Homo sapiens: one gene and its partner. Each later gene encodes a partner of the first gene's protein in a complex. Links are inferred from orthologs where the notes say so. Each region holds a gene or a part of one and is shown on either strand. Other genes may lie near its edges. The genes, in order: HMOX1 and POR.

The links.
Region 2: the proteins of HMOX1 (region 1) and POR are in contact, whole or in part, in a crystal structure (PDB 3WKT), measured with the Rattus norvegicus proteins. The link is inferred for Homo sapiens from one-to-one orthologs. Residues at the interface, in NP_036712.1 of Rattus norvegicus: Asp12, Ser14, Glu15, Gln38, Ala75, Pro76, Glu81, Lys149, Ile150, Lys153, Ser171, Asp173, Asn174, Thr176, Lys177, Phe178, Lys179, Gln180, Leu181, Arg183, Ala184, Arg185, Asn187, Thr188; in NP_113764.1 of Rattus norvegicus: Thr88, Thr177, Asp208, Asp209, Arg313, Arg514, Lys515, Gln517, Arg519, Leu520, Phe522, Lys523, His626, Lys665, Met667, Thr668, Lys669, Gly670, Tyr672.

Annotation. Positions count from the first base shown.
Region 1 is NC_000022.11:35,371,277-35,387,278, forward strand, and holds the start of HMOX1 (heme oxygenase 1), read left to right. Parts: upstream 1-9,819; 5' UTR 9,820-9,897; coding exon 9,898-9,920; intron 9,921-11,829; coding exon 11,830-11,950; intron 11,951-15,408; coding exon 15,409-15,900; intron 15,901-16,002.
Region 2 is NC_000007.14:75,972,498-75,987,355, forward strand, and holds the end of POR (NADPH--cytochrome P450 reductase), read left to right. Parts: intron 1-6,953; coding exon 6,954-7,082; intron 7,083-7,841; coding exon 7,842-7,991; intron 7,992-8,550; coding exon 8,551-8,675; intron 8,676-9,019; coding exon 9,020-9,109; intron 9,110-9,726; coding exon 9,727-9,825; intron 9,826-11,022; coding exon 11,023-11,139; intron 11,140-11,240; coding exon 11,241-11,359; intron 11,360-12,279; coding exon 12,280-12,461; intron 12,462-12,560; coding exon 12,561-12,710; intron 12,711-13,081; coding exon 13,082-13,352; intron 13,353-13,425; coding exon 13,426-13,571; intron 13,572-13,661; coding exon 13,662-13,744; intron 13,745-13,839; coding exon 13,840-13,984; 3' UTR 13,985-14,358; downstream 14,359-14,858. Other genes in the region: TMEM120A (transmembrane protein 120A), read right to left, coding at 14,535-14,726. UniProt on the Homo sapiens protein: This enzyme is required for electron transfer from NADP to cytochrome P450 in microsomes. It can also provide electron transfer to heme oxygenase and cytochrome B5.

The DNA of each region.
Region 1 (16,002 bases):
GCCACTGCACTCCAGCCTGGGCGACAGAGCAAGACTCGTCAAAAAAAAAAAAAAAAAAAAGGCCGGGTGCGGTGGCTCACACCTGTAATCACAGCACTTTGGGAGGCTGAGGCAGGTGGATCACGAGGTCAGGAGTTCAAGACCTGCCTGGCCAAAATGGTGAAACCCCCATCTGTACTAAAAATACAAAAATTAGCTGGGCATGGTGATGGGTGCCTGTAATCCCAGCTACTCGGGAGGCTGAGGCAGAGAATTGCTTGAACCCAGGAGGCAGAGGTTGCAGTGAGCCAAGATCGTGCCACTGCACTCCAGCCTGGGTGACAGAGCAAGACTCCATCTCAAAAAAAAAAAAAAAAAAAAGTTCCCACGGTGCTGCCGAGCCTGTGATTGGCAGAGGCATTGTTTATTCGTTCAAGGTTTTTTGTTAAGGGACCCGGTGAGTATCAACTACTAGGCAGTTCTCACTTCTGCTCACTTCTGGGCTCACTTAAGCCTACCAGCAGCCCTGAAGGCTGTTAACCACCCTTTAGAGCTTAGAGAGTCGAAGAGGCAGGGGCCAGGTCCTAAAGAAAGGCACACTGTCCCCAGAGCCTGGGGCGCGATGCCACCCGCCCCCCCCCCCCCCGCCCAGGCGTACCCCCCCTTACCCCGCCCCCCACCCGCTCGCCGCGCCCAGCCCATCTGGCGCCGCTCTGCCCCTGCTGAGTAATCCTTTCCCGAGCCACGTGGCCGTGTTTTTCCTGCTGAGTCACGGTCCCGAGGTCTATTTTCGCTAAGTCACCGCCCCGAGATCTGTTTTCGCTGAGTCACGGTCCCGGTGTCTGTTTTCGCTGAGTCACGGTCTAGAGATTTGTTTTCCTCAGAGTTCCAGCTGCTCCAGGTTTAATCCCCTGGGGCAAAGTCCGGACTGTCCGGCTGGAGTCTGGAGTCGGGACATGCCTCAGCCAGCACGTCCTCGGCCTCGTCTGGGGCCTGAATCCTAGGGAAGCCATAGCAGCTCCTCCACCCTTCCTCTCACTCCTCCTCTAGCCTCTTGCTACTCCCCGCACCACTGTTTTAGGGAACCTCTATCTCCCGACGGCCTGCCACGGGCCAGGCGCTGTGCTGGGGGCTTCACACTTTAAATCGCTGTTGAGCGGGGCGCGGGGGCGCTGCAACCTAAAGGTGGGAGCTACTCAAATGGAGGGGCATCTGTTAAAATGGCCGGCCTGTCATTTTCAAAAACTTCAAGGCCGGGCGCGGTGGCTCACGCCTGTAATCCCAGCACTTTGGGAGGCCGAGGCGGGCGGATCACGAGGTCAGGAGATCGAGATCATCTTGTCTAACACGGTGAAACTTCATCTCTACTAAAAATAGAAAAAATTAGCCGGGCGTGGTGGCGGGCGCCTGTAATCCCAGCTACTCAGGAGGCTGAGGCAGGAGAATGGCATGAACCCGGGAGGCGGAGCTTGCAGTGAGCCGAAATCGCGCCACTGCAGTCCGGCCTGGGCGAAAGAGCAAGACTCCGCCTCAAAAAAAAAAAAAAAAAAAAACTTCAAAGGCTGAGGAACCCAAAGAGGCAGGACAAGTGAATGCAATGCAACCTCTTGGGCTGGAACCTGGACTGGTAAAACGGCTAAAGAGGAGGTTATTGGGGCAATAGGGGACATTTGAATATAGGCTTTATATTGAAGGAGTTCAGGATATGCCACCCAAAATGTGCCACTTTGGATTAAGGATCATTATTATTATTATTATTATTATTTTGAGACAGGGTCTCTGTCACCCAAGCTGCAGTGCAGTGGCACAATCTCGGCTCACTGCAACCTCTGCCTCCTAGGTTCAAGCGATTCTCGTGCCTCAGCCTCCCAAGTAGCTGCGATTACAGGTGTGTGCCACCACTCCCCATTCATTGATTAAGGATTATTTTGAGCTGGCCAGGCGTGGTGGCACATGCCTGTAATCCCAGCACTTGGGGAGGCCACTGTGGGGGGATTGCTTGAGCTCAGGAGTTCCAGACCAGCTTGGGCAACGTGGTGAAACCTTGTCTCTACAAAAAATACAAAATATAAAAAATTTGCCAGGCATGGTGGTGCATGTCTATAATCCCAGCTACTTGGGAGGCTGAGGCAGGAGGATTGCTTGAGCCCAGGAGATTGAGGTTGCAGACCACTACACTCCAGCCTGGGAAACAGAGTGAGACTCTGTCTCAAAAAAAAGGATTATTTTGGGATAAAGGCACTTTAAAAACAAACAAACAAAATCAGGTGCAAAAAGGTTGCTGTGGGTTGGGCATGGTCGCTCAGGCCTGTCATCCCAGCACTTTGGGAGGCAAAGGCAGGCAGACCACCTGAGGTCAGGAGTTCGAGACCAGCCTGACCAACTTGGAGAAACCTCATCTCTACTAAAAATACAAAATTATCCGGGCGTGGTGGCGCATGCCTGTAATCCCAGCTACTAGGGAGGCTGAGGTAGGAGAATTGCGTGAACCTGGGAGGCAGAGGTTGCAGTGAGCCTCTGACCTTCTTTTTTTCTTCCTGAAAGCAAGAGATGAAATTCCATATGGAAGACTTTTCTCTATACGAGGAGAAAATTAGCATTCCTTTCATCCATGGCAGGAAGTTGAAGCCAAAATAAATCTGTACAAACAAAGCTTGTTAAAGCCAGCTCTTCCTAGTCTCTTCTCTACCCAGTTAACCACCCTAACCCACACCCACGCCACTTTGCCTTGTCACGTTTTCACAGTTTACTACTCTGTGTCCAAATCTGCATGTAAGTGTTTGGCTCTGTTTCCTTGAGTCTTCTTTTCCTTAGGACGGCTCACGTGTTATGTAAATGTACGTTAAATAAATGTGTATGCTTTTCTCCTACTAATCTGTCTCATGTCAGTTTAATTCTCAGGCCCAGCAGAAAACTCTAAAAGGGTATAGGTAAAATTTTGCCTCCTCTACAATATAATGAATTTATATCGAAGCCAGATTTCCTGATTTTTATAACCATATGTCAGGGACTGCACTCCAGATATAATACATGCTAAATAATTTGGGGGTAGATAGGCATGGTGGCTCACACCTGTAATCCCAGCACTCTGAGACACCAAGGCAGAAGGACTGCCCCTGACGTCAGGAGTTGGAGTCCAGCCTGGGCAAAATAGCAAGACCCCATCTCTACTAAAAATGAAAAAAATTATCCAGGTGTGGCGGCATGAGCCTATAGTCCTAGATACTCAGGAGATGGAGGCAGGAGGAGATATATATATCTGTATATATTCAAAAATATATATGCATAGTATATCAAGAGAGAATACGATAAAGCAAATGTGACAAAATGCTAACAACTGGTGAATCTGGATGAAGGTGTATAGAAATTCTCTGTACTATGCTTGCGACTTTTCTGGACATTTGAAATTATTTCGGAGAAGTTTACTTTTTGAGGAAAAGGTAAATACAGGCCGAGCGCAGTGGCTCACGCCTGTAATCTCAGCACTTTGGGAGGCCAAGGCAGGTGGATCACCTAAGGTCAGGAGTTCGAGACCAGCCTGGCCAACATGGTGAAACCCTATCTCTACTAAAAATGTACAAATTAGCTGGGCATGGTGGTGCATGCCTGTAATCCCAACTACTCAGAGGCTGAGGGAGGAGAATCGCTTGAACCCAGGAGGCAGAGGTTGCAATGAGCCGAGATAGTGCCATTGCACTCCAGCCTGGGCAACAAGAGCGAAATTCCATCTAAAAAAAAAAAAGGTAAATATGAAGAACCTGAGATTCAAAACTCCTGACTGAAATCAAGGTTTGTTGGATGTTAGTGACCCCCGCCCTACTGCAGAATCATCCAGAAATTTCTAGATAGGAAAAAGGCTCTGGCTGAATCATGAAAGGGGAGCTGGATGCCTCTCTGACCAACATAACGGTTAACATTTACCGTGTGCCTCCTCTGCCAAGCCTCACTGTAAGCTTCTTACATGCATCAAACTGATTTCATGCTCACCACATCCCCTTGAGTCAATGCTGTTATTATTCCTCATTTTGTCAGATGAGGAAATAAAAGCTTAGGGTGTTCCAGTGTACACAGATGGGAAGTCATGGATCCTGGATTTGACTGCAGTCCTTTTGCCTAGAGTTTATTGCTTTAGCTAGTCTATACTATCCTAATGGTACCTTGATCAGGTTGAACCAGGGCATACCAGATCTGGGAGGTATAGTCAGGCTCCATTTTGGCAAGACTGGCCTGGTAGTCTGCATCCTTCAAAGGCTAGAATGCCTTCTTGTCTGGCTGTGGGTCTTCGGTCACTGGGTACGTGCTAATAGAGGCTGCACGATGTTTGGAAAAGATGTTGCCATTCTATGCCCTTTGCTGCCTCGGGCCCAGGGGCTCCTAGGGCAGCGATGCTGTGGAATCTGAGTGAGCCAGACACACTTGGCCTCAAATCCCGGGTGAGCTGTGTGATATTAGGCAGGGAATTTCACCCTGCTTGCTAAGCCTCGTTGATTAAATATGTAGTGAAAGCCTGGCTTGTGCTAAGGGCATAAGAAGGTGAATCTGACATGGCCCTTGCTGACTTCAAGGAGCTCACAGTCAGGACGGAGGTGGGGGCAACTGGGGCCCCTGGAGGGGTCCATAATGTGAGGAGAAGAGCTTCAGGAAAGCCTGTGTAGAATCTGTTTTACAGCTTCATGAAGATATAATTGGCATACAATAAACTGCACATATTTAAAGTATACAATTTGATGAATTTTGACACAACTTATAACCTGTGAAAGCATCTCCACAATCAAGATAAAGGGTGTATTCATCACTCTCAAGTTTCCTAGTACTCCTTGGTAATCCCCTCACTTCAACTAGGTAACCAGTGATCCAATTAGACTAGCTTGCATAATTTTCTAGAATTTTATATAATTCTATATACATTATGCGTATGTGTGTGTGTATTGCTTTGGCGAGCTCTTTTATTAGGAATGTTCATCTTTTGTCTGTTATATGTGTGGCAAACACTTCCTTCCAGTCTGTTGGTAGGGTTTCAACCTTATTTATGGGGTGTTTTGGCATCAGAAGGGTTCGGTGTTTTGCACTTCAGCCTATGGATTTTTTTCTTTTTCTTTTTTTTTTTTTTGAGATGGAGTCTTGCTCTTTCACCCAGGCTGGAATGCAGTGGTGCAATCTCAGCTCACTGCAACCTCCACCTCCCGGGTTCAAGCGATTCTCCTGCCTCAGCTCCCCCGAGTAGCTGGGATTACGGGCACCTGCCACTACGCCCGGCTAATTTTTGTATTTTTAGTAGAGATGGGGTTTCACCATGTTGGCCAGGCTGGTCTTGAACTCCTGACCTCAGGTGATCCACCCACCTCAGCTCCCAGAGTGCTAGGATTACAGGCGTGAGCCACCACAATTGGCCCAGTCTATGGATTTTTAAAAAATAACTTGGGCTTGTCTTCCTTGCTGAAGAAGGCTGTTTTCCAGCCTGTCACACAGCAGTTAGGCTGTAGACCCTCACTGGAGCCCCTGCCCTGCAGAATCGAGCACATGTTCTTTCTGGGTCTGTGTGGGGTGTGGGTGTGGTCAGGACACCGTCTGTGACCTTATTTACTGGGGACGTCCCCTGCTTGAGGAGAATATCCAGGCAAGGTCTCCTCACTCTCCTTAGCCACCATCCAGCTTGGCCAAGAGGCCTCCCCATGATTCCTCCCACGCCAGGGCCTCGCCTTTGTTTTTCACTGTTAGGGGCTGGCGAGTCACTGACCCGCCCCCCTCCCTGCTGCCCAAACCACTTCTGTTTCCTGAAGGCGCCTTGGGAATGCTGAGTCGCGATTTCCTCATCCCCTCGTGCAGCTGCATTTCTGCTGCGTCATGTTTGGGAGGGGGGACTCGCGGAAACAAAGGGAAGGCGGATTTTGCTAGATTTTGCTGAGTCACCAGTGCCTCCTCAGCTTCTCTTTAGGTGGGAGGTGAAAGGGCAGCTTTAATGGTAGGCAGGAGGAAGTGAAACTTCTAGAAAACGGCAGAAGCCTCTTGTTTGTCTTTTCTAAGTCTGTGCCTTTCCCCTGCTGGGTCCCCCAGCTCCCACCCTGTGAAGTCCACCTCAATCTGCCCCTGATTTAATGTTGCAATCCACCGAGGCCTTCTTATGCTTCACATCTCTCTGACTTCTGCATCTGCCTCATCTCTTCTGCCTCCAGCAGGAGAAAGTTCTCTACTTTTTTTGCCTGGATAATTATTGTATTTTTAGTAGAGATGGGGGTTTCACCATGTTGGTCAGGCTGGTCTTGAACTCCTGACCTCAGGTGATCAGCCCACCTCAGCCTCCCAAAGTGCTGGGATTATAGGTATGAGCCACCGTGCCCAGCCTCATCCTCCATCTTCAAAGCTAGCAGCATGGCATCTCCCAGTCTCTCTCTCTGTCCTCTGCTTTCTTTGTCACCTTCTGTATGTGCAACCATCCAGCCTCCCTCTTATAAGGCCCAAGAGGATAATCCAAGATAATTCCCCATCTCAACATCCTTGACTTAATCACTTCTGCAAGATCCTTTTGCTATGTAAGGTAGCAAAAAGGTAACCTATTCACAGGTTCTGGTGATTAGAATGTGGACACCTTTAAGGGGCTTTTATTTGGCCCAGCAGGAGGAGAGAGAATAGCATTTGGATCATCCTGTTGCTTGACTAAAAAGAAGGGGAAGTCAGGAGGCTGAATCAGCATGCGAAAGGGCCACAAATTCAGCCCTGGGACAGCCTAGAGGACCAGAACAACTCTGGCCTGGCCTCTTGCACCCCAGCAACCCACTGTGTGGGGGGCTGTTCTAACGAAGTCTGGGGCTCCCAGAGAACAGTTAGAAAAGAAAGCAAGCCCAGACCGGCAGCCAGGAACCCTGGGTCACTGGAGGTTCTCTTTCCAATGGGGGGCATAGCCTGGCCAAGTCCCTCCTGCTCTTGGGGTCCCTGCTTCCCTGTGTTAAATAAAAAGGGTTCAGATCTCATGAGTTTTACCCTCTAGGGTCGCTGAATGGACAGACTCTGGATCTATACACGCAAACTCATCTCCCCTAAACTCCTGGACCCTCTGTGAGAAGGGTTGGAGTGTGGTGGTCAGGACTGTGGGGACTGGCTTCAAAGTGCTGTAGTTTGAATCCTGGCTCTTCCATCATTAACTGTATGACTTGGGAAAATGACTTATCCTCTTTGTCCCTCAGTGCTCATGTGGGCAAAATAGAGATGAAAATAGCTTGCAAGGCTGTTGTCAGGATGGGCTGCAATCACGCGCGTGAAGTCTCTGCACATAGTAAATTCTCAATAAAGGCTGGTTAGAATGACAGTTTGGAATTGTGGCTTGGTTCCAGCCCATTCTATCAGCCCAGCAATATTACAGCCTAACAATATTATTATTTTTTCCCAGAAAGAGACCTTGAAGCATCTATTCATTCAGGCATGCATTCAGTATTAACTGTGACCTACCAGGCACTATTCCAGGAACTGGGAATTTACAAAGCAAAGTAGTAGGCAAGGTCTCCACCTTTGTGCTTTACATGCCACTGTTGGGGCTCAGAAAGTGATACCAGGACAACTGGTGCTTTGACATGATGAGAGGCCTTAGGAGCTGCCTCAGAGTCAAGGTCCCTGTAAGCTTGTCTTGTTCCCCCGACAAGCACAGGGAGAGACGCTCTCTGGAATTTCCTTATCTGACCAAGAACACTTCTTTACAAAAGAAATGCAATTGTGTTAAGTCTTTTTTTCCTTTGAGACAGAGTCTCGCTCTTGTCACCCAGGCTGGAGTGCAGTGGCACTATCTTGGCTCACTGCAACCTCCTCCTCCTCCCGGGTTCAAGCGATTCTCCTGCCTCAGCCTCCCAAAGTGCTGGGATTACAGGTGTGAGCCACCGCGCCCGGCCAGTGTTAAGCCCTTTTTCTAGTAATCTCATCAAATATCCAGGAAAGATCAACCACTGGAGAGAGAAAGAGACTGGGAGTCATCACCAGACCCAGACAGATTTACCTGTTCTTCTGAGGACAGTGCCAAGAGATTACCTGGGGGACTTTATCTGCCTAGGACAACCTTTGTCCCTGTGCGGCTCCACCTCCACCTTCCCTTAAAGTCGGCCTTTCACCTCCAGGGCCATTCCTTCTTGCTAATGATTTACTGTCTTTCAAAAGAATTGTCTGCATTCCCTATCTCCCTTCTCCCCTATAAAAAAGGCTGGGTAGCCTCTGTACTCCACTGGGTTACAGGGTCACCATTCTTCCGTGATTACCCCATTACAATACATTTTTGTATGTCTTTTCTCCTCTTAACCTGACTTTTGTCGGTTGGTTTTCGGGGAACCTTCAGAGGAAGAAGGGGAATTTTTTTCAAGGCCCCTTAGCTCACCCTTGGGAGGATGATCCTTTCCAATACAATCTCAGAAGTGCCTCTGGGCTGTAGTGGCCCTAGGCTGAATTCCAGGAAGTTTTTTTTTTTTTTTTTTGTTTTTTTTTTTTTTTGAGGGACAGCGTCTTGTTCTGTTGCCCAGGTTAGAATACAGTAGCGTGGTCACAGCTCACTCCAGCCTCTACATCCCAGGCTCAAGTGAACCTCCAGCCTCAGCCTCCCAAGTAGCTGGGACCACAGGCATGTGCCACCATGCCCAGCTAATTTATTTTATATTTTGTAGAGACAGGGTCTCCCTATGTTGCCCAGGCCAGTCTCGAACTCAAAGCAATCTTCCCACCTCGACTGGGCTCAAAGCGCTCTTCCCACCTCAACCTCCCAAAGTACTGGGACTACAGGTGTGAGCTACCATGCCAGGCCTGAAAGCCATCTTAAAAAAAAAATCTTAGAATGAGAATCACAGTATTGGGAAAGGACTGTATGAATCATCTGGTCCATTCGTTTTGTCCTCTGGGTTCACCCAGTGACCCTATTTCCCCCGAGTTCTAAGGAGTCCACCTCATGCAGAATTGATTCAATAGGCGATCAGCAAGGGCCAGCTCTGCTCTGGGCCCTGAGCAGGCACTGAGTATAAGTCAGACCTGAATGTGCCTGGAAGAGTGTCCCACGCATTCCAGCAGGGAAGCAGTTTGTATGACAGGTGTCCCAGTCCAGGCGGATACCAGGTGCTGCCAGAGTGTGGAGGAGGCAGGCGGGGACTTAGTCTCCTCCCTGGGTTTGGACACTGGCATCCTGCTTTATGTGTGACACCACTGCACCCCTCTGAGCCTCGGTTTCCCCATCTGTAAAATAGAAGCGATCTACCCTCACAGGTCAGTTGTAGGGATGAACCATGAAAATACTAGAGTCTCTGTTTTTTGACAGGAACTCAAAAAACAGATCCTAAATGTACATTTAAAGAGGGTGTGAGGAGGCAAGCAGTCAGCAGAGGATTCCAGCAGGTGACATTTTAGGGAGCTGGAGACAGCAGAGCCTGGGGTTGCTAAGTTCCTGATGTTGCCCACCAGGCTATTGCTCTGAGCAGCGCTGCCTCCCAGCTTTCTGGAACCTTCTGGGACGCCTGGGGTGCATCAAGTCCCAAGGGGACAGGGAGCAGAAGGGGGGGCTCTGGAAGGAGCAAAATCACACCCAGAGCCTGCAGCTTCTCAGATTTCCTTAAAGGTTTTGTGTGTGTGTGTGTGTGTGTGTGTGTGTGTATGTGTGTGTGTGTGTGTGTGTGTGTGTGTTTTCTCTAAAAGTCCTATGGCCAGACTTTGTTTCCCAAGGGTCATATGACTGCTCCTCTCCACCCCACACTGGCCCGGGGCGGGCTGGGCGCGGGCCCCTGCGGGTGTTGCAACGCCCGGCCAGAAAGTGGGCATCAGCTGTTCCGCCTGGCCCACGTGACCCGCCGAGCATAAATGTGACCGGCCGCGGCTCCGGCAGTCAACGCCTGCCTCCTCTCGAGCGTCCTCAGCGCAGCCGCCGCCCGCGGAGCCAGCACGAACGAGCCCAGCACCGGCCGGATGGAGCGTCCGCAACCCGACAGGCAAGCGCGGGGCGCGGGACGCGGGACGGGCGCCTTTCTCTCCCAACCCTGCTTGCGTCCTAGCCCCACCCCGGGACACTGCCACACAGCGACAGAGCCCAGGAGCCAGAAACTTGGGCTCTGGAGTCAGGAGGTGCGGGGTTCTGATCCTGCCTGTGCCCGTAGGGTAGTTGGAGGGAGGAACGGTAATTTACATGCCTGGCACCCTGGTATGCGGTTGGTGACCAAGATGGGAGTGTCCCTAGAGTATCCAGTCTTTGAGGTAGCCAATTTTTTTTTTAATCCTACTTTCGAGGTGTGTTTGGAGTTGCTCTCTGCTGAATCTAGATCTCTGGGGCTCTGCCAGCCTGGGGGAGCATGCTTGGTTCTCTTGGTGGCATCTGTCCCTCACTAGCTACGGAGGACCTGAGCCAGACATCACCCTGGCTGCGGTGTTCCATGTCTCACAGATAGCCCAGTTCAGGGAGGCGACATGCCCAAGAGTGCTCAGTTAGCTGGTGTCAGAACTGGGCCTTGAACCTTGGTCTGCCCACCTCCAGGTCTCACTCATTCCCTTCTTTCAATAATTTGTTAGTATTTTTTTTTTTAACTCCTGGGCTTAAGCATCCTCCCACCTCAGCCTCCAGAGTAGCTGGGACTTACAGACATGTGCCATTTCTCCTGAGACTTTGACCAGCTGTGTTGTAGAACAGGGAAGCAGGGCAGGAGAAAAGGGAAAAATGACAATTCTGTGGGGAGGCAGGGATACGGACCCATGACAGAAATACTCCCAGAAAGACTTTTTCTTTGACTAAAGCAGACTTTCTCAGGCTTTTTAACCCTGACGCCTTCATGATGAGCATAACATGATAGGGGGTCATGAGATTTGCATCTGGAACTTTAACAAAATAACTGAATTAAATATTGGGTCTAAAAGCCAATCAAAGCAATTACAAACTTGGAGATGCCGGTTCATGGGGCTGCTGCTTCTTCCTGGGTTATGCTGTACCTCCTCCTCCTCTCCACTGCGAACTACCTGTACCAGGATTTCCCCCTTGGTTTGGGGGACTGTATTATTTAGTGTTTTAATGACTGAAGAGTGTTTACAAAGCTGCGAGAGCCACCATGCCCAGCCTGAATTTGTTTTTTGTTTTTTGTTTTTTTGTTTTTTTGCTTTTTTGCTTTTCTTTTTTTGAGATGGAGTGTTGCTCTGTTGCCCAGGCTGGAGTGCAGTGGCGCGATCTCGGCTCACTGCAACCTCTGCCTCCTGGGTTCAAGCGATTCTCCTGCCTCAGCCTCCCAAGTAGTTGGGATTACAGGCGCCCACTACCATGCCCGGCTATTTTTTTTTTTTTTTTTGTATTTTTAGTAGAGATAGGGTTTCACCATGTTGGCCAGGCTGGGCTCAAACTCCTGGCCTCAGGTGATCTGCCCGCCTCAGCCTCCCAAAGTGCTAGGATTACAGGCGTGAGCCACCATGCCTGGCCCTTTTTTTCTTTTTTTTTCTTTTTTTGAGATGGAGTCTCTCTGTCACCAAGTCTGGAGTGCAGTGGTGTGATCTCAGCTCACTGCAACCTCTGCCTCCGGGATTCAAGCAATTACAGGCATAATTGCTGGGATTACAGGCACCTGCCACCATGCCCGGCTAATTTTTGTATTTTTAGTAGAGACGGGGTTTCACCATGTTTGCCAGGCTGGTCTCGAACTCCTGACCTCAGGTGATCCACCTGCCTTGGCCTCCCAAAGCGCTGGGATTACAGGCGTGAGCCACCGTGCCCAGCCACAAGGCTGCATCTTAAAGCGATTGAGAACGTGGCCTGAATGAGGATGGGAGTCTCTTGAAGGCCTGCCCACAGGTGGGAGGCTCAGCAGTTGGGAAGGACCCCACCCCCAGCCAGCTTTGTGTTCACCTTTCCCATTTCCTCCTCAGCATGCCCCAGGATTTGTCAGAGGCCCTGAAGGAGGCCACCAAGGAGGTGCACACCCAGGCAGAGAATGCTGAGTTCATGAGGAACTTTCAGAAGGGCCAGGTGACCCGAGACGGCTTCAAGGTATGTGGCTTGGTGGGACTAGCCCTGGTGGAGGGTGTGGCAGGTGTGGGTGGACCCAAGGCTCAGACCAGTGGTTTAAGTGGGGATGCTGAGGGACCAGATGGGCATGTCCAATAGAATCATCTTAAAAATGATGACACTGAGGCTCAGAGAGGGAAGGTGAGTTACCCAAGGTCACACAGCAAGTTCAGCCTGCTCTGTAATGTTGTGGAGGGGCTGGGGCAGCAGTGCCGTTGACTGAGCACCGGTTCCATGTTGGGCATTTTGTACACGTGGTTTCTAATCTGTGCTTCAACCCTGACGAGAAAGATGAGGACTGGAAGGCTCAGAGAGGTTCAGTGACTAACAGAAGGTCACACAGCCAGTAAGTGGAAAAGGCTGAAATCAACCAAGACCGATTTCAGCCTTGTACTCCTTGTATTTCAGAGCTTGTACTCCTGATCTAACTCGAATTTGCCTCTGAAGATAAGGAATAATATAGGTTGGAGTCTTAACAGAACCCTTTTCTAACAGTGAGACTGAGGGTGCCTCATCTAATCTCCCTAAGCCACGTTTTCCCCATCTGTAAAAGAGTATTTCAACAGCAGGGTTTTCTTAAGCACCCACTATATGCCAGGTACTGATTTTGCTGTTTCCCAGCACTGTTGTGAAATTCATGCAAATAGAAGGAAAGCACTTGATGAAGAACCGGGAAGATACTGGGTGTTAAAACATCAGCGTGGGGAAGAGCTTGTTCAGGTTGAACAGAGGGTGTGGGGGTGGGGAGTAGGGAGCTATATCCCACCACCTTCATCCCAGTCCCTTTTGCAATCTGCACCCTCTGCCACCCCCTACTTCCAACATGAGACATGCTTTATTTATTTTATTTTATCTGAGACAGAGTCTCACTCTGTTGTCCGGGCTGGAGTGCAATGGCAAGATCTCGGTGCCCTGAAACCTCCGCATCCTAAGTTCAAGCGATTCTCCTGCCTCAGCCTCCCAAGTAGCTGGGACTACAGGTGCCCACCACCACACCTGGCCAATTTTTGTATTTTTTTAGTAGAGACAGGGTTTTACCATGTTGGCCAGGCTGGTCTCGAACTCCTGACCTCAGATGATCCACCCGTCTTGGTCTCCCAAAGTGCTGGGATTAGAGGTGTGAGCCACCACCCGGCCGAGACATGCTTTAATGAGGAGAGATTTAATCTGTGGTTCCAGGCTGGGTGGGGTCCTTGGGCCTGTAATGGGTCTTCCTCATCCTCCTCCCCTCTCCCTTAAAAAGATGAGGTACACCCAGTTGCTGCAGTGTGACTGGAGACAGTGGGTGCAGGGAGGTGAATGCTGGAATATCCCATCCCCAGCCAGCTTAGACTTTGGATTTTGCCTCTAAGTCACAGGGTTCTAAGGAGGCGCCAAGATCCATGAGAGAATCCAGTGCTCACTTACATTAAGCTGGTGGACGTGGCACTTATCACAGCCCTTCTCATGTGAGCGCTAAGTGCCAGGCTGCCCTCTGTGCTGGCCCAGATCCTCTCACTTAATCCTCACACCAGCCCCATCTAGTATGTGGCAGGTGAGGGAACTGACTAGCACAGTTGGCTAGCACAGTCACACGGACCTCAGATCATCTGCTCTAGGATAGGATAGGAAGCTGGGACCAGAGAAAGCAAGTGGCTCACCCATGGTCACACAGTTAAGGACTGGCAGAGTTGGGTAAGAACCAGGTCCGTCACACTCAAAAACCCAGGCTCTTTTGTACCAGACTGCCTGGCTTTCTGTCCCCTCAAGGAATAGAGCTGCTTTGAATGTTTGTGGCTCAGAAATAACTCAGAAACTCCAACCTAAATGTCTTAACTTTGTTCTCCTTCAAATTTAAACGGGCGTATTAATGTGTAACGGGAGTTAGTGCCCCAAGCCAAGGTACACTCAAGACCTGTTGCCTCAGCCCAGCATGCAGAGGTGGTGGGGTTCAGAATAGGCCTCCAGGAAGGAGAATTGTGCCCTGTAGTTGGTTACGCAGAGGTCAAAAGCCAGAAGCACATGGCCAATCTCCTTTAAGCACTTTCATTTCAGCTGTTCCCCTCTCCTGAGCCATGGTGGGTCCCTGGCAATGCCCGGTCTTCAATCTAGTTTCATTTCTTACTAGCTGTGCAACCTCCATGTCTCATACCCTCTCTGAGCCTTAGTTTCCTTTTCTGTAAAATGGGAATAGCAATTCCTTTGTTGGATTTTTTTTTTTTTTTTTTCTGAGACAGGGTCTTGCTCACTCTGTTCCCCAAGCTGGAGTACAGTGATATGATCACAGCTCACTGCAACCTTGAAATCCTGGGCTCAAGTGATACCCCTGCCTCCGCCTCTGGAGTAGCTGGGACTATAGGCATGCACCCCCACAGCCATACCTGGCTTTTTTTTTTTTTTTTTTTTTTCTGAGTCAAAGTCTTGCTCTGTCGCCCAGGCTGGAGCGCAATGGCGTGATCTCGGCTCACTGCAACCACTGCCTCCTGGGTTCAAGCAATTCTCCTGACTCAGCCTCCCGAGTAGCTGGGATTATAGGTGCCTGCCACCATGCCTGGCCAATTTTTGTGTTTTTAGTAGAGATAGGGTTTCACCATATTGCCCAGGCTGGTCTCTTGGCCAGGCTGGTCTCGAACTCCTGATCTCGTGATCCGCCTGCCTCAGCCTCCCAAAGTGCTGGGATTACAGGCGTGAGCCACCGCGTCCAGCTGGCTAGTTTATTTATTTATTTATTTATTTTTATTTATTTTTTTGAGACAGAATTTCGCTGTGTTGCCCAGGCTGGAGTGCAGTGGCGAGATCTCAGCTCACTGCAAGCTCCACCTCCCGGGTTCACGCCATTCTCCTGCCTCAGCCTCCTGAGTAGCTGGAACTACAGGCGCCCGCCACCACGCCCGGCTAATTTTTTTGTATTTTTAATAGAGACGGGGTTTCACCTTGTTAGCCAGGATGGTCTTGATGTCCTGACCTTGTGATCCTCCCGCCTCGGCCTCCCAAAGTGCTGGGATTACAGGCGTGAGCCACCGCACCTGGCCCCAGCCAGCTAGTTTTTTAAAATAATTTTTTGTAGAGGTGGGTTTTGGGCTATGTTGCCCAGGCTGGTCTCAGACTCCTGGCTTTAAGCAATCCTCCAGCCTTAGCCTCCCAAAGTGCAGGGATTACAGGGGTTTGAGCCACCACACTGGGCCAGTTTGTTAGATCTTTATATAAGGATTCAATTAGGCTGCTTGTTTTGCCCAGTGGGGTAAAAGGTTTTTAGGCTGAGAAAGTGCATGATCGTCTTTTCCTCTTGTAAAAACCCCTCTGGCTGCTGTGTGAAGAGGATTGTAGCGAGGGGTGGCAGAAGGAGTCAGAGCCCAGCTGCGAAGTGAGGAGGGCCTTTCCAAAGGCAGTAGTGGACGGGACGGACAGAGGTGGGGGTCTTCTATGTGGCTGGCGGCCTGACCTGCTCACTCTGCTTTCAGCTGGTGATGGCCTCCCTGTACCACATCTATGTGGCCCTGGAGGAGGAGATTGAGCGCAACAAGGAGAGCCCAGTCTTCGCCCCTGTCTACTTCCCAGAAGAGCTGCACCGCAAGGCTGCCCTGGAGCAGGACCTGGCCTTCTGGTACGGGCCCCGCTGGCAGGAGGTCATCCCCTACACACCAGCCATGCAGCGCTATGTGAAGCGGCTCCACGAGGTGGGGCGCACAGAGCCCGAGCTGCTGGTGGCCCACGCCTACACCCGCTACCTGGGTGACCTGTCTGGGGGCCAGGTGCTCAAAAAGATTGCCCAGAAAGCCCTGGACCTGCCCAGCTCTGGCGAGGGCCTGGCCTTCTTCACCTTCCCCAACATTGCCAGTGCCACCAAGTTCAAGCAGCTCTACCGCTCCCGCATGAACTCCCTGGAGATGACTCCCGCAGTCAGGCAGAGGGTGATAGAAGAGGCCAAGACTGCGTTCCTGCTCAACATCCAGGTGAGGGTCGGGCAGCCTGGGGCAGCCTCTGCCTCCCCCCGTTGTTCCTCCAAGGGACCCTTCTCATTGTAGGGGAGGGTGCTATAGGTCATGGTTAACACA
Region 2 (14,858 bases), on another chromosome or scaffold:
CCTCGGCCCCGATGGGCATGTAATCAAGTCTAGCAGACGGCTGGCGTCACCGCATAGAGGATGTCCCGGTGGCCAGGAGAGGGAACGCAGCCCGGCTCGCTTGGGAGTCATTCTTGCCTAACCAAAGCCCTGAAGCAGCTCTGCTGTTGCTGGGACAGTTTGTTTCCTTGAATCTTTACTTTTTGAACAAACCAAAGTCTAAGAACAGACCCTCCCTCTAACTCACGAAGCTTCTCCCGTCTGGCCCTGGCCTGTCCAGGAGCAGAGGTAAATCTCACAGAGCTGCGGTCGTGGCACCACTGCCATTTTCTCTCCGCTTTGTTTTTGTTACTTTTTTTTTTTTGAGATGGAATCTCGCTCTGTCACCCAGGCTGGAGTGCAGTGGCGCAATCTCGGTTCACTGCAAGCTCCACCTCCCGGGTTCAAGCCATTCTCGTGCCTCAGCCTCCCGAGTAGCTGGGATTACAGGTGCGTGCCACCACGCCCAGCTAATTTTTGTATTTTTAATAGAGATGGGATTTCACCATGTTGGCCAGACTGGTCTTGAACTCCTGACCTCAGGTGATCCGCCCGCCTCAGCCTCCCAAAGTGCTGGGATTACAGGCGTGAACCACCGCACCCAGCCAATTTAACTATTTAATTGTAGGCATCAGTACTACATTTACATAGTTAAAATAAAAACATCCACTATTCAGTGGAAAGCTCCCCTCTGCCACCCACTCATCCCCACTGTTCTTATTATTTATGGATCCTTCTAGAGTTCCTGTATGAACATACAAGTAAAACAAACAGAGACTCTTATTTTTAATTTAAAAAAACCTTTATTTTATTTTAGAGACAGGGTCTCACTGTGTTGCCCAGGCTGGAGTGCAGCGGCGCCATCATAGCTCACTGCAGCCTCAAACTCCTAGACTCAAGCCATCCTCCTACCACAGCCTCCCAAGTAGCTGGGACTACAGGTGCACACCACCACGCCTGGCTAATTTTTTAATTTATTCTTCATAGGAACAGGTTCTCGCTATGTTGCCCAGGCTGGTCTTGAACTCCTGGCCTCAAGCAATCCTTCTGCCTCCGCCTCCCAAAGTGCTGGGACTGTAGGTGCGAGCCATTGCATCCAGCCTACACTTTTCTTAAAACACAAAACGTGGCATACTATGTGCACTGTTCCAGACCTTGCTTTTTTTTTTTTTTTTTTTTTTTTTGAGACAGAGTCTCGCTCTGTCGCCCAGGCTGGAGTGCAATGGCACGGTCTTGGCTCACTGCAACCTTCACCTCCTCGGTTCAAGTGATTCTCCCGCATCAGCCTCCGGAGTAGTTGGGGTTAGACGCCTGCCACCGTGCCTGGCTAATTTTTGTATTTTTAGTAGAGACGGGGTTTCACCATGTTGACCAGGCTGGTCTCAAACTGCTGACCTCGTGATCCATCTGCCTCGGTCTCCCAAAGTGCTGGGATTACAGGCGTGAGCCACTGCGCCCGGCTGACCTTGCTTTAAAAAAAAAAGAACACAAAACAACTTGATATGTCTCAAAGATCCTTCCATATCAATACAAAGATACTGCCATCATCTTAGCTGTACCATGATTCCATTATATGGCCATCTGGATTCACTGTAACGCACTTAACCCTGTCCTATTAAAGATGGGCACTGGGGCTGTTGCTACTCTTTGGCTCTTACCAACAATGTCACTGTGAATATGTAGCTCGGTTTGCACATTTCAAATACAAAGCAGTCCCAGAAGTGGAATTGCTGGATTGGAAGGTAGATGTGTTTGCAATCGTGATAGAAGCTACAAATCGTCCCCGTAGGAGTCACACCGTGGCACGCGCTCAAGAATAGCGACGTGTGAGAAAACTGTTCCCCACAGCCTTGCCAACAGTTTGTTATTAAAGTTTAGATTTTTGTCAGTTTTCTAGGCTTAAAAAAAAAACTCAGTATAGTTGTAATTTACATTTTTATGAATGAGATTCAGTAGATTTTCACCCACCTAGGTCTAGATGGCTTCGTTTCTTTTTCTTTTTTCTTTTCTTTTTTTTTTTTTTTTTTTTGAGACAGGGTCTCGCTTTGTTGCCCAGGCTGGAGTGCAGTGGTGTGATCTCAGCTCACTGCAATCTCCACCTCCCGGGTTCAAGCAATTCTCATGCCTCATTCTCCTGAGTAGCTGGGATTACAGGTGCGTGCTACCATGCCTGGCTAACTTTTGTATTTTCAGTAGAGACAGGGTTTTGCCATGTTGGCCAGGCTGGTCTCGAACTCCTGACCTCAGGTCATCCACTCAACTTGGCCTCCCAAAGTTCTGGAATTACAGGCCTGAACCACCGCACCCAGCCTCTTTTTTCTTTTTTTAATAGATTCTCTCTTCACATCTTTTGCCTGCTTTTCTGTTGGGATTGATCTTTCTCCTTGAAATTATTAGGGAGATGAATCTCTTGTCTGTGATATAAGTTGAAAATATCTTGCCCGTTAAAGAGTTTGTCTTTTAGTGAGATTCCATCTCTTAAAAAAAAGTTTGTCTTTCAACCTAGCTGATCGCATTTTTATTTGTTTTGCTGTGTAAAAGTTACAGAGTCACCTATATGATTCTTTCTTTTCGTGACTTCTGGTCTTAGAGTCATAATTTGAAGGTCTTCCCCATGCTAAAGAGATAAAGATATTCCTGTATTTTTTTTTTCTAGTACTTTTAGGGTTTTGTTTTTCATATTCAAAATTTAAAATCTGATCTATTGGGAATTTATCCTGATGTAAGATGTGAGGTATGAATCCAACTCTACATTTTACATAGCTGTCTAAACACCATGTATTAGAGTCCATCTTTCCCCCACTGGTTTGAAATGCCACCTTTATCATATACTTAATTCCTGGGCTGGGCGCAGTGGCTCATGCCTGTAATCCCAACACTTTGGGAGGCCGAGATGGGCAGGTCGCTTGAGCCCAGGAGTTTGAGACCAGCCTGGGCAACATGGCGAAACCCCATCTCCACAAAAAATAGAAAAATTAGTGGGACACAGTGGTGCGCACCTATAGTCCCCGCTACCTGAGAGGCTGAAGTGGGAGGATAGCTTGAGCTTGGGAGGCACAGATTGCAGTGACCACTGGACTCAAACCTGGGCAACAGCTACACCCTGTGTCAAATAATAATAATAATAGCTGGGTCTCTGGGTTCTTTTCACTGGGCGCAACGTGTTCAAGGTTCACCCACACTGTAGCATATGTTAGTACTTCCTTTTTATTGCCAAATAATGTTTTAATATATGGATTCTTACTTATTTTTCCGTGACTTTTAGGATCAATTTGTTGAGGAAAAAAAAGCTGTTCAGATTTTTTTTTTTTTTTTTGGTAGAGACTGGGTCTCACTCTGTTGCCCAGGCTGTTCTCAAACTCCTGGGCTTAAGCAGTCCTCCTGGTGTGGCCTCCCAGGGTACTGGGATTACAGGTGTGAGCCACTGCACCCAGCTGGTTCAGATTTCTATTACATCATGCCACATTTCTCTAGTGACATAAATAGAGCTGCCATTTTTGTGGGTCGAGACTCCCTGTCCATAATCGGGGTGCTTTTCCATTGGCGTGAGTCCTTTGTGTGTAGTTCAGTAGCTTCTGACACATCTCTTACAAAGTTTATTTCTAGGTATTTTATATATTTTGATGCTCCTGTAAATATTTAGCTGCTATCTTAGGTCATCTTTTGTTCTCTTAACCTGATAATCATGAGCACTTTCTCTTCTATTAAGTATTTTTACGGTGATTATTTTAAAATATCCTTTTGGGCGAAAACCCTGTCTCTACTAAAAATACAAAAATTAGCCGGGCGTGGTGGCATGCACCTGTAGTCCCAGGTACTCGGGAGGCTGATGCAGGAGAATCACTTGAACCCGGGAGGCGGAGGTTGCATTGAGCCAAGATCGCACCACTGCACTCCAGCCTGGCCAACAGAGCAAGATTCCATCTAAAAAAAAAAAAAATCCTTTTGGCCGGGTGCAGTGGCTCATGTCTGTAATCCCAGCACTTTGGGAGGCTGAGACGGGCGGATCACCTGAGGTCAGGAGCTTTGAGACCAGCTGGACCAACATGGTGAAACCCTGTCTCTACTAAAAACACAAAAAATTAGCCAGGCATGGTGACGGACACCTGTAATCCCAGCTATTCAGGAGGCTGAGGCAGGAAAATCGCTTGAACCCAGGAGGCAGAGGTTTCAGTGAGCCGAGATCGCACCACTGCACTCCAGCCTAGGCGACAAGAGCAAAACTCTGTCTCAAGAAAAAAAAAAACAATTTTTAATGATTTAACAATGATTTGTGGAAAATTCAGGAACTTTAAAAAGTATAAGAACATTTATTGTAATCCCTAAGTTTTTTTTGGTGGTGGTTTTGTTTTGAGACTCAGTCTCACTCCTGTCACCCAGGCTGGAGTGCAGTGGCTCAATCACAGCTCACTTCAGCCTCAACCTCCCAGGCTCAAGTGATCCTCCCACCTCAGCCTCCCAAGTAGCTAGAACCATAGGCATGCGCCACCACACCCAGATAAATTTTTTGTATTTTTAGTAGAGACAGGGTTTTGCCATGTTGCCCAGGCTGGTCTCAAACTCCTGGGCTCAAGTCATCCTCTTACCTCGGCCTCCCAAAGTACTAGGATTACAGAAGTGAGCCACGGCACCCGGCCGCGTAAGTTTTATTTTGTATGAGGTGGGATTCAGTGTGAAAACTAGAGACTACTTTAGGCATTTTAATCTGGAAGGGATTTCACACAGGGAAGGGGGTACTTCCAGGTTACTGGAGGGGCTGAAGGAGCAGGTTGGTCTCTAAGATATCACAGAAGCAACCTGCAAGGTAGCTGCTCTGTTCGAATGCAGCCTGAAACTGTTGAGTTCAGGACACACCACGTGTAGCTGTGATCCAGGATAAGAAGCTACTTCTACAGCTGCCTCTGAACATCACATAAGCCAGTAGCCAGGACTAGGAACTTGCAGTCTGGCTACCAAAACTATTAGAAATACCTCAGGTGGCTGGGTGCGGTGGCTCACGCCCGTAATCCCAGCACTTTGGGAGGCCAAGGTGGGCAGATCACCTGAGGTCAGGAGTTCGAGACCAGCCTGGCCAACGTGTTGAAACCCAGTCTCTACTAAAAATTCAAAAAAATTAGCCTAGCATAGTGGTGGGTGCCTGTAATCCCAGCTACTCAGGAGGCTGAGGCACGAGAATTGCTTGAACCCAGGAGGCAGAGGTTGCAGTGAACTGAGATCGTGCCATTACACTCCAATCTGGGCGTCAGAGCGAGACTCCGTCTCACACACAAAAATAAAAAAAAGAAAAGAAAAAAAGAAAAATGCCTTAGGCACTGAAGACCAGGCACTGCAGAGAACCTCACATGTGCATGAGGGGCCAGGAAGCCTTGGCCTCCCTTCCACCCTTCAGATCTTGCAAAGCACGTTCAATTGGCTGAACCGAATTGGCTGCAACTCCAGCCCCAACGGGCTCTGGGGAATAGGATTTCAGGCTTTTCAACAGCTGCTGGAGGAGGAGGGTGGACTGACGAGTATGTGAGCCAGCCCCTAGGACCTTTCCCTGTTGTAAAATTTTATAATGAATATGTATTTAACCAGCAAAACACATCCAGAATGCCCCATTTAGGGACCCTCGGTATATTTCTTGCCAGTCTGTTTTCTTTGTGCCTGTGGGTATAGAAAGAAAATACATATGTATGTTTTGATATACATATCTATTATTTATATAACACAATTGGATTGTATAGCCAGCCCTGCATATCCGTGAGTTCGGAGTTCAAGAATTCAACTGCAGACTGAAAATATTTGGAGAAAAAATGGATTGTTGTGTCTGTCCTGAACACATACTGTCATCTTACTGTTCCCTAAACAATACAGCATAGCAACTATTTACAGAGAATTTACATTACATTAAGTATTACATTAATAAGTAATCTAGAGATGATTTAAAGTATGTTGGAGGATGTGTGTAGGCTACACACAAATACCACATCATTTTATAGCAGGGACTTGAGCATCCTTGGATTTTTGTTTTTTGGGTTTTTTTGTGATGGAGTTTTGCTCTTGTAGCCCAGGCTGGAGTGCAATGGCGCGATCTCGGCTCACCACAACCTCTGCCTCCCAGGTCCAAGCGATTCTCCTGCCTCAGCCTCCCAAGTAGCTGGGATTACAGGCATGTGCCACCATGCCCGGCTAATTTTGTATTTTTAGTAGAGACAGGGTTTTCTCCATATTGGTCAGGCTGGTCTTGAACTCTCGACCTCAAGTCATCCACCCGCCTTGGCCTCCCAAAGTGCTGGGATTATAGGCGTGAGCCACTGGAGGTGGAGTCTTGCTCTGTCACCCAGGCTGGAGTGCAGTGGCGTGTTCTCAGTTCACTGCAACCTCCACCTCCTGGGTTCAAGCTGTTTTCCTGCCTCAGCCTCCCTAGTAACTGGGATTACAGGTGCACGCCACCATGCCCGGCTAATTTTTGTAGTTTTAGTAGAGATGGAGTTTCACCATGTTGGTCAGGCTGGTCTTGAACTCCTGACCTCAGGTAATCTGCCAGCCTCAGCCTCCCAAAGTGCTGGGATCACAGGTGTGAGCCACCACGCCCGGCTGCATCCTTGGATGTAAGTATCTATGGGAGGTCCTGGAACCATTCCCCCACGGATAGGGGCTATACATTTGGTTACTTTTTTTAACTTTGTTTTTTCCCCGTGTCATGAAAATGTCAGAAGTGTGATCTTGAGCAGCCGCGTGTGTGAGATTGCCTTGGTGACCTTTGCCCTCCTTTGCCACAGTGGCTGTGACAGTGAGAAGCAAGTCCCAGAGGAACTTAGAAGGGACTCAAAGCCAGGAAGGAAAGGGGGCGGCCTGGAGGGCCCCCGCCTGCCAGGCCTGCCCAGTGGGTGTTCACCGGAGCCGTGGCTGAGGTCTGTGGCCCTCACCAACCCTGTGTCTGCCTTCCTTAGGGGAGGAACATCATCGTGTTCTACGGCTCCCAGACGGGGACTGCAGAGGAGTTTGCCAACCGCCTGTCCAAGGACGCCCACCGCTACGGGATGCGAGGCATGTCAGCGGACCCTGAGGAGTATGACCTGGTAAGCTGCCACCGCGTGCTGGCCCCAGATGGAGGCAGTGGGTAGGACAGGGAGCAGGTCTGTAGGGCGCCCCTCAGCAGGGGGAGGCCGGCAGGGAGTGGGGTCCTGGGAAGACGTCCTCGGAAGTTGCCTTCCCGTGAGGGTCATTGCCATCCCTGCCCGGGCTGACTGACGGAAGGGCCATTCCTGCAGTTGCAGCCACGTGCCAGGCATCGTTTCCCCAGGACTGGCCCTCCCCTGAGTGCCGGCTGCCCTCCTGGCGGCCGCCACATCTCCCAAACCAAACCCACCCTCCCCAGCTGCTCCACTCCCCTCTCCTTCGAGGTCTTGGTGACGGGCACTACCCCACAGCCCTCTCCAGGCTGCATTTGCAGTTGATGAACAGTTTAGTTAGATATCAGTGTGCACCGGGGCTGTGCGGTGCCTGGGAGCTTTGGAATGAGGTTCCCAGGGTGGCCCCAGACCTGCATCAGCTCAGGAGGCTGCATTCTGATGGCTCTTTTGTGCCAAGCTTCACTTTCCTCTAGAAACACATCCTCTCCGCTCCAGCCTAACACGGGTGACCTTGTCCTGCCCACCTGGCACAAATGCCCATGCCCCAGCCCCTCCGTGTTGTTACTTCTCTCTGATCCCACGACACTCAGACATCCCTGGCCTGGTGCCACCCTGGGCAGGACCTGGCCTTCCCCATCTGGTGCGGGTTGAACCTTGAACAGGCTCAGTCATGGCCGGGGCGCGGTCCTGTCCCTGTTTCTGCAGGCCGACCTGAGCAGCCTGCCAGAGATCGACAACGCCCTGGTGGTTTTCTGCATGGCCACCTACGGTGAGGGAGACCCCACCGACAATGCCCAGGACTTCTACGACTGGCTGCAGGAGACAGACGTGGATCTCTCTGGGGTCAAGTTCGCGGTGAGTCACCCAGAGACTGCTATGGGCTCCCGGTGGCCTGCGGTGCCTCCCTGGGGACTCCAGATCCATGTATCTGAAAGGCAGCCCTCCAGACCCCCACCCTGTCCTCAGCAGCCAGGGCAGGCCACTTGTGAGACCCTCTCCTCTGCCCCAGACCCCAGCACTACGAGAATGTCCCCTCCCTGTCCCCAGCCCCAGTCGGCTCCAGGGGGCATTGGGTGCTGGAGACTAAAGGCAAGAAAGGTCTGGCTGGACGACTGAGACCTGCCTGGCCTCGGAGAGCTGGAGCCCCAGCCCGGTGGGGAGGGTGGGCTGGCCCCGCTTCCCTGTGGGTTGAGGCTGGCAGTGGACGGGGCAGGCTGTGGGCTGCAGGTCAACCAGATGAAGCCTCTTCAGTGGCCCAGTGTTCCTTGCAGTGCGAGGCGCCTGGTGGAACGGAGGCCTGCAGGTGTTGCCAGCAGCTCAGCCAGTGCTGTGGGGCCTCCCGCCCTGCCCCCATGGCCCCTCCCACTGGTCAGGTCGAGGGCCAGGCCTCAGAGCGGCCCCTGTGTCCACGCAGGTGTTTGGTCTTGGGAACAAGACCTACGAGCACTTCAATGCCATGGGCAAGTACGTGGACAAGCGGCTGGAGCAGCTCGGCGCCCAGCGCATCTTTGAGCTGGGGTTGGGCGACGACGATGGGAAGTGAGTGCCCACCCTGCCACCATGATCAGCGCGGCGGGCTTAGGCAGGGGCCGTGGAACGTGAGGGGCGCGCACACCATTGTGTCAGCTGAGACTCAGCGACACGCACCTCCAACACAGAGGGAAGGGGCTCTCCTGCCTCTGCCCTGCCCCTGCCAGTTTTGCTTTTCGGCTTGCCCAACTCCCTGGAGCCTTCCTGATGCTCTGGGTTTATGTCGCTGGGTGCCCCAGGGTGCACAGTCCTGAGCTTTGGGGATGGGGTGGGGTCGGGGCGTGCCTGGCACCAGGTACCGTTGCCACATGGGCCTCCCCTGAGCCGCTCCCCCTCTCCTCTCCTCGGCCCAGCTTGGAGGAGGACTTCATCACCTGGCGAGAGCAGTTCTGGCCGGCCGTGTGTGAACACTTTGGGGTGGAAGCCACTGGCGAGGAGTCCAGGTGAGCAAGTGCCCGCAGGTGCGGTGGGTGGCCTGGGCGGGTCCTGTGCCGAGGGCAGCCACCCTGGAACAAGGGCTGGCAGTGGGTCGCAGCAAGGTTAGAAGACACTCCGTCATAGGGTCGAGGAGGGACCTTGGTCCCAGCCAAGGACTCACTCTGCCACGTTGCTCTGCACTGCCCTGGGGCAGCGGGGTGCATCCCACCTCTCGACAAGGACACATCGCGTCGGGCTCTGTGGCTAGGTTCAACTTTGGCAAAAGGGCTCATTTCCTTAAAATCTGCCTCCACAGACTTGGCCAAAAACATAACGTTCCTCTCTGTGCCCTTGATGGCCCCTGGGTGCTGCCCGGGCTTCCTTACCTTCTCCCAGATGGAAGCCTGCCCAGCCCTGCCCCGGCTTCTGGGCGTCTGGCCCCCGGCAGCTCCACGCCGCCTCCCTCCTTGCTCCCTCGCCTGCCCTCCTTGTGCATCTGCAGCAGGGGCTCCCCTGCTTCTTGTCGTATGTACCTGGGACCTCACCCCAAAGGCCATGCACGGTCTCCCCTGTAGTCCAACCCCTCCCTCTCGGGACTGACCCCTGCCGCTTCCCGGCCTCACCCTTGGTCTCCCCTTTCCAGCATTCGCCAGTACGAGCTTGTGGTCCACACCGACATAGATGCGGCCAAGGTGTACATGGGGGAGATGGGCCGGCTGAAGAGCTACGAGAACCAGAAGCCGTGAGTGGAGGGAGCGTGGCTTGGGGCAGACGGCTCTATGGCCACTGGTGCACCCCAGGCTCAGTCTGCCGTGTATCCCCATATCCCCACAGGGCCCTTCTCACCAGACCCCGTGCCCCGAGTGGGTGTGAGTGTCCACGACCTGTCCACGGCCCGGCCCCAGGAGACTGGCACTCGCCCAGTTTGTACTGAGCTCACTTAGCCACCTTACTCTGCACTGCCCAGGGCAGCGGGGCACATCCCACTTCTCGACTAGGACAGTGCATTGGCCTCTGTGGCTAGGATCCTCTTTGGCAGAAGGGCTCATTTTCTTAGAATCTATCTCCATAGATAGACTTGGGGGAGAAACCTGGCGTTCCTCTCTGTGCCCTTGATGGCCCCTGGTTGCTGCCCAGATTCCTGCCCGAGCCACCCAGGGAAGTCCTCGTGCCACTGCATCCAAGACCAGCTGCCCTGCTTTCTGTAGGCCTGCCCCAGCCTGGCTGGAGCGAGAAGCCCTGCATGTCGGTGGCTTTCCGGAGTGCAAGTTTCTCTCTTGTCCACGGTGTAGTCCAGGACGTGTGGGGGTGGGGGAGCTGTGCTCCTCATTTGGGGACCAGCCACCTTCCAGCCTGTGGCACCGTCAGCTTGGGCCTCACAGTTCTTTTAGGGGCCAGCCTCAGTTTCCACATCTGTAAACAGACACTGATGACCCAGCTCTGCCCATGTGGTGGGACTATAGAGAGAACTGCATTAGGGCTGGGCGAGGTGGCTCACAGCTCTAATCCCAGCACTCTGGGAGGCCGAGGTGGGTGAATCACCTGAGGTCAGGAGTTCAAGACCAGCCTGGCCAACATGGTGAAACCCCGTCTCTAGTAAAAATATAAAAGTTAACCAGGCATGGTGGCGAATGCCTGTAATTCCAGCTGCTCAGGAGGCTGAGGCAGGAGAATTGCTTGAACCTGGGAGGCAGAGGTTGCAGTGAGCCGAGATCGCGCCGCTGCACTCCAGCCTGGGTGGCAGAGCGAAACTCTGTCTCAAAAAAAAAAAAGAGAACTGCATTGGACCAGGCTGGGAGAGCCCTTGATGTAACCGGTGAGATTTCCTCATGGAGATCTCTGAGATTCCCTGTGCTTTGTGCAACCAGAAGCGTCCTTGGAGACGGAGACTCAGATCAAAGCCCCGGCCGCTCACTGTGCTTCTCTCCTCCCCACCCAGCCCCTTTGATGCCAAGAATCCGTTCCTGGCTGCAGTCACCACCAACCGGAAGCTGAACCAGGGAACCGAGCGCCACCTCATGCACCTGGAATTGGACATCTCGGACTCCAAAATCAGGTACCAGCTGCCACTGTCACCCCCTGAACCCTCACTCTGGGCCTCCTGACCTGGGGCAGGGCCAGCCTTCCGCCCCTCCCGAGCCTCACATCTCCCTCCAGGTATGAATCTGGGGACCACGTGGCTGTGTACCCAGCCAACGACTCTGCTCTCGTCAACCAGCTGGGCAAAATCCTGGGTGCCGACCTGGACGTCGTCATGTCCCTGAACAACCTGGATGGTGAGTGCCACAGTCAGGGCGCCCTGCCGGGCTCAGGCAGCCGCGGGATTGGGCCTGTAGGAAGGCCCTGGGTTGAGCTTCTGCTTAGGCCTGAAGCCCCGGTGCCTGGGAGGCCCTTGCACCGAGACTCCACGGTTACAGGATCCCAAGCAAACGGGAGGCGGGGTGGCCCTAGGGGTCTAGCCCTCTCTGTCGGGGTTCCCCCTACCCCGTCACTGTCATAGTCCTTTAAGGGAGTGAGGTGCTGAGGCCTGGTGGCAGAGGCAGCCCTGGCTCCCCCATGGCCACTGTGTCCTGCTGGGAAGGAGGGCCTGGCTCCACGACCCACCTCTGCCGGCCTGGGGCTGCCCCCACCTCCTCACTGAAGTCAGGAGTCAGCAGCCCTCCCAGGCCCCCAAGGGTGCACAGTGGTGCCGAGTGGCAGTAGCCATTACGCGGGGCTGCCTGGGCCTGGTGGGGCTGCCCAGCCTGAGCCTCCCGCTGTGAAGCCCTCGGACCCCACTGGTCACCAACCTGGGCCGAGCCCACCTCGCCCCACCCCTGCTTGCCGGTCCTCAGCTGCCATGCCAGGGCTGCCCTTACTGTCGGCTTCCACAGCCCGCCTGTAGGGAAGCCTGGGCGGGGCTGTGTCAGACCGTGTAGTGTGCGGTGAAAGCACAGCGGGTGCGTTAGTGTGCAGGGGCTCCCCCGCACCTCCCCTAGCAGGGTCCTGCCTCTGATGAGGACTTCCTGTCTGGTTGGAGGCCCCAGACTTGGCCCCAGGGCCAGGGAGGCATCAGAGAGCATAGGCCTTGTTTCCAGCACCAGCTGGGGCACCTGTTGCCGCAGAGCTGGCCCAAGGTGTCACCCCCTCCTGCCGCAGCCACCCATCCCCAGGAGGCGGCCGCCTACCCCAAGTCCTGCCTGTCTCTTCCCTGCAGAGGAGTCCAACAAGAAGCACCCATTCCCGTGCCCTACGTCCTACCGCACGGCCCTCACCTACTACCTGGACATCACCAACCCGCCGCGTACCAACGTGCTGTACGAGCTGGCGCAGTACGCCTCGGAGCCCTCGGAGCAGGAGCTGCTGCGCAAGATGGCCTCCTCCTCCGGCGAGGGCAAGGTGCGCCCCCTCAGCCCCCGCAACCTCCGCCCCGTCACCCCGCCGTTTTCCGAGCTCCGTGGGCCCCAATCAGCCCCATCTCACCCCCGTGTCTCTTAGGAGCTGTACCTGAGCTGGGTGGTGGAGGCCCGGAGGCACATCCTGGCCATCCTGCAGGACTGCCCGTCCCTGCGGCCCCCCATCGACCACCTGTGTGAGCTGCTGCCGCGCCTGCAGGCCCGCTACTACTCCATCGCCTCATCCTCCAAGGTGAGGGCCGGCACTGCCCTGCCAGCCACACGCTGGAGGCCCAGCCCTGCTCACAGCAGGCAGAGTGCAAGGCGGCACAGGAGCTCCGAGATCTGAGCCCTGAGCTCCAGTTCCAGCCCCAGCGCAGCTCCAAATGCCTCCCCAGGCTGTGGACTCAGTCGGGCTGGCTTGTGAGATTCTCAGCATCTGTCCAGCCCCGGTCCCCAGAACCAGTCCGGGAAGCCGCTGGGGAGGGGGCCTCTGAGGTTTGGGTGCCAGGTGGGCTGGAAGAGGCCCTGGGTGAGTGGGGCTGGCCTGCAGAACGGGACTTGGGGCCGGGGCTGGGCAAGGGCCTCGGTGTGGCGGTGGAGCTCACACGGCCCTCCCCACAGGTCCACCCCAACTCTGTGCACATCTGTGCGGTGGTTGTGGAGTACGAGACCAAGGCTGGCCGCATCAACAAGGGCGTGGCCACCAACTGGCTGCGGGCCAAGGAGCCTGCCGGGGAGAACGGCGGCCGTGCGCTGGTGCCCATGTTCGTGCGCAAGTCCCAGTTCCGCCTGCCCTTCAAGGCCACCACGCCTGTCATCATGGTGGGCCCCGGCACCGGGGTGGCACCCTTCATAGGCTTCATCCAGGAGCGGGCCTGGCTGCGACAGCAGGGTGAGTGGGGTCCCATGGGGGAGAGGGGGTGACGACTGGGAGCCCCGCGCTCACCCCGGCCCCTGCCACGCAGGCAAGGAGGTGGGGGAGACGCTGCTGTACTACGGCTGCCGCCGCTCGGATGAGGACTACCTGTACCGGGAGGAGCTGGCGCAGTTCCACAGGGACGGTGCGCTCACCCAGCTCAACGTGGCCTTCTCCCGGGAGCAGTCCCACAAGGTGAGACGGGCGGGCACCCACGAAGGTGGGCATGAGGCTGGCAGGGCCACAGCCACAGTGCCCCCCTCACAGCACCACCCTTGGCCCCAGGTCTACGTCCAGCACCTGCTAAAGCAAGACCGAGAGCACCTGTGGAAGTTGATCGAAGGCGGTGCCCACATCTACGTCTGTGGGTGAGTGAGTGGGGTCACTGGAATAGGGGGCAGGGAGGACAAGGCCCTGCCTGCCACAGTTGGCCCAGCCCCCAGCACCCCCTCTTCCTGCCCAGGGATGCACGGAACATGGCCAGGGATGTGCAGAACACCTTCTACGACATCGTGGCTGAGCTCGGGGCCATGGAGCACGCGCAGGCGGTGGACTACATCAAGAAACTGATGACCAAGGGCCGCTACTCCCTGGACGTGTGGAGCTAGGGGCCTGCCTGCCCCACCCACCCCACAGACTCCGGCCTGTAATCAGCTCTCCTGGCTCCCTCCCGTAGTCTCCTGGGTGTGTTTGGCTTGGCCTTGGCATGGGCGCAGGCCCAGTGACAAAGACTCCTCTGGGCCTGGGGTGCATCCTCCTCAGCCCCCAGGCCAGGTGAGGTCCACCGGCCCCTGGCAGCACAGCCCAGGGCCTGCATGGGGGCACCGGGCTCCATGCCTCTGGAGGCCTCTGGCCCTCGGTGGCTGCACAGAAGGGCTCTTTCTCTCTGCTGAGCTGGGCCCAGCCCCTCCACGTGATTTCCAGTGAGTGTAAATAATTTTAAATAACCTCTGGCCCTTGGAATAAAGTTCTGTTTTCTGTATTTGCCTGGTATTGTGTGAGTAGATCTGGGACCTCCACCTGCATCAACTTAACTAACTCAGACCCCAGGAACCCATGTGGTGGGGCCACCCAGCCCTCCCCTCCCCCAGGAGAACACACACGCTCAGGCCACCTCTGGGCCTCTCTTTATTGAGGGCACTGGGCCCAGGTCTTCCTTCAGGGCCCACAGCGCCCATAAAACCCAAGGGAGAATAGAAGAGACCCCCTGATACACGCACACTCGAGGGGCGCCTCCCATCCCCTCCCACAACACACAGGACAGAAGCCCCTCTGGGCCGGCAGGGGAAGGCCCAGCCTCAATCCTTCTTGCTCCCGTGCCGCTGACTGTGAAACTTGTGGTGCACAACCCTCAGGGTGGTGAAGAAATTGCCGAGGAAAAGGAGGAGGAAGGGAAAGCCGCACATAAGCACCTGCCGGAGGAATAGGGTGAGGGCTGGACATGGGCCTGGCCCCCCATCCATCCTGTCCAGGGACCCCGGC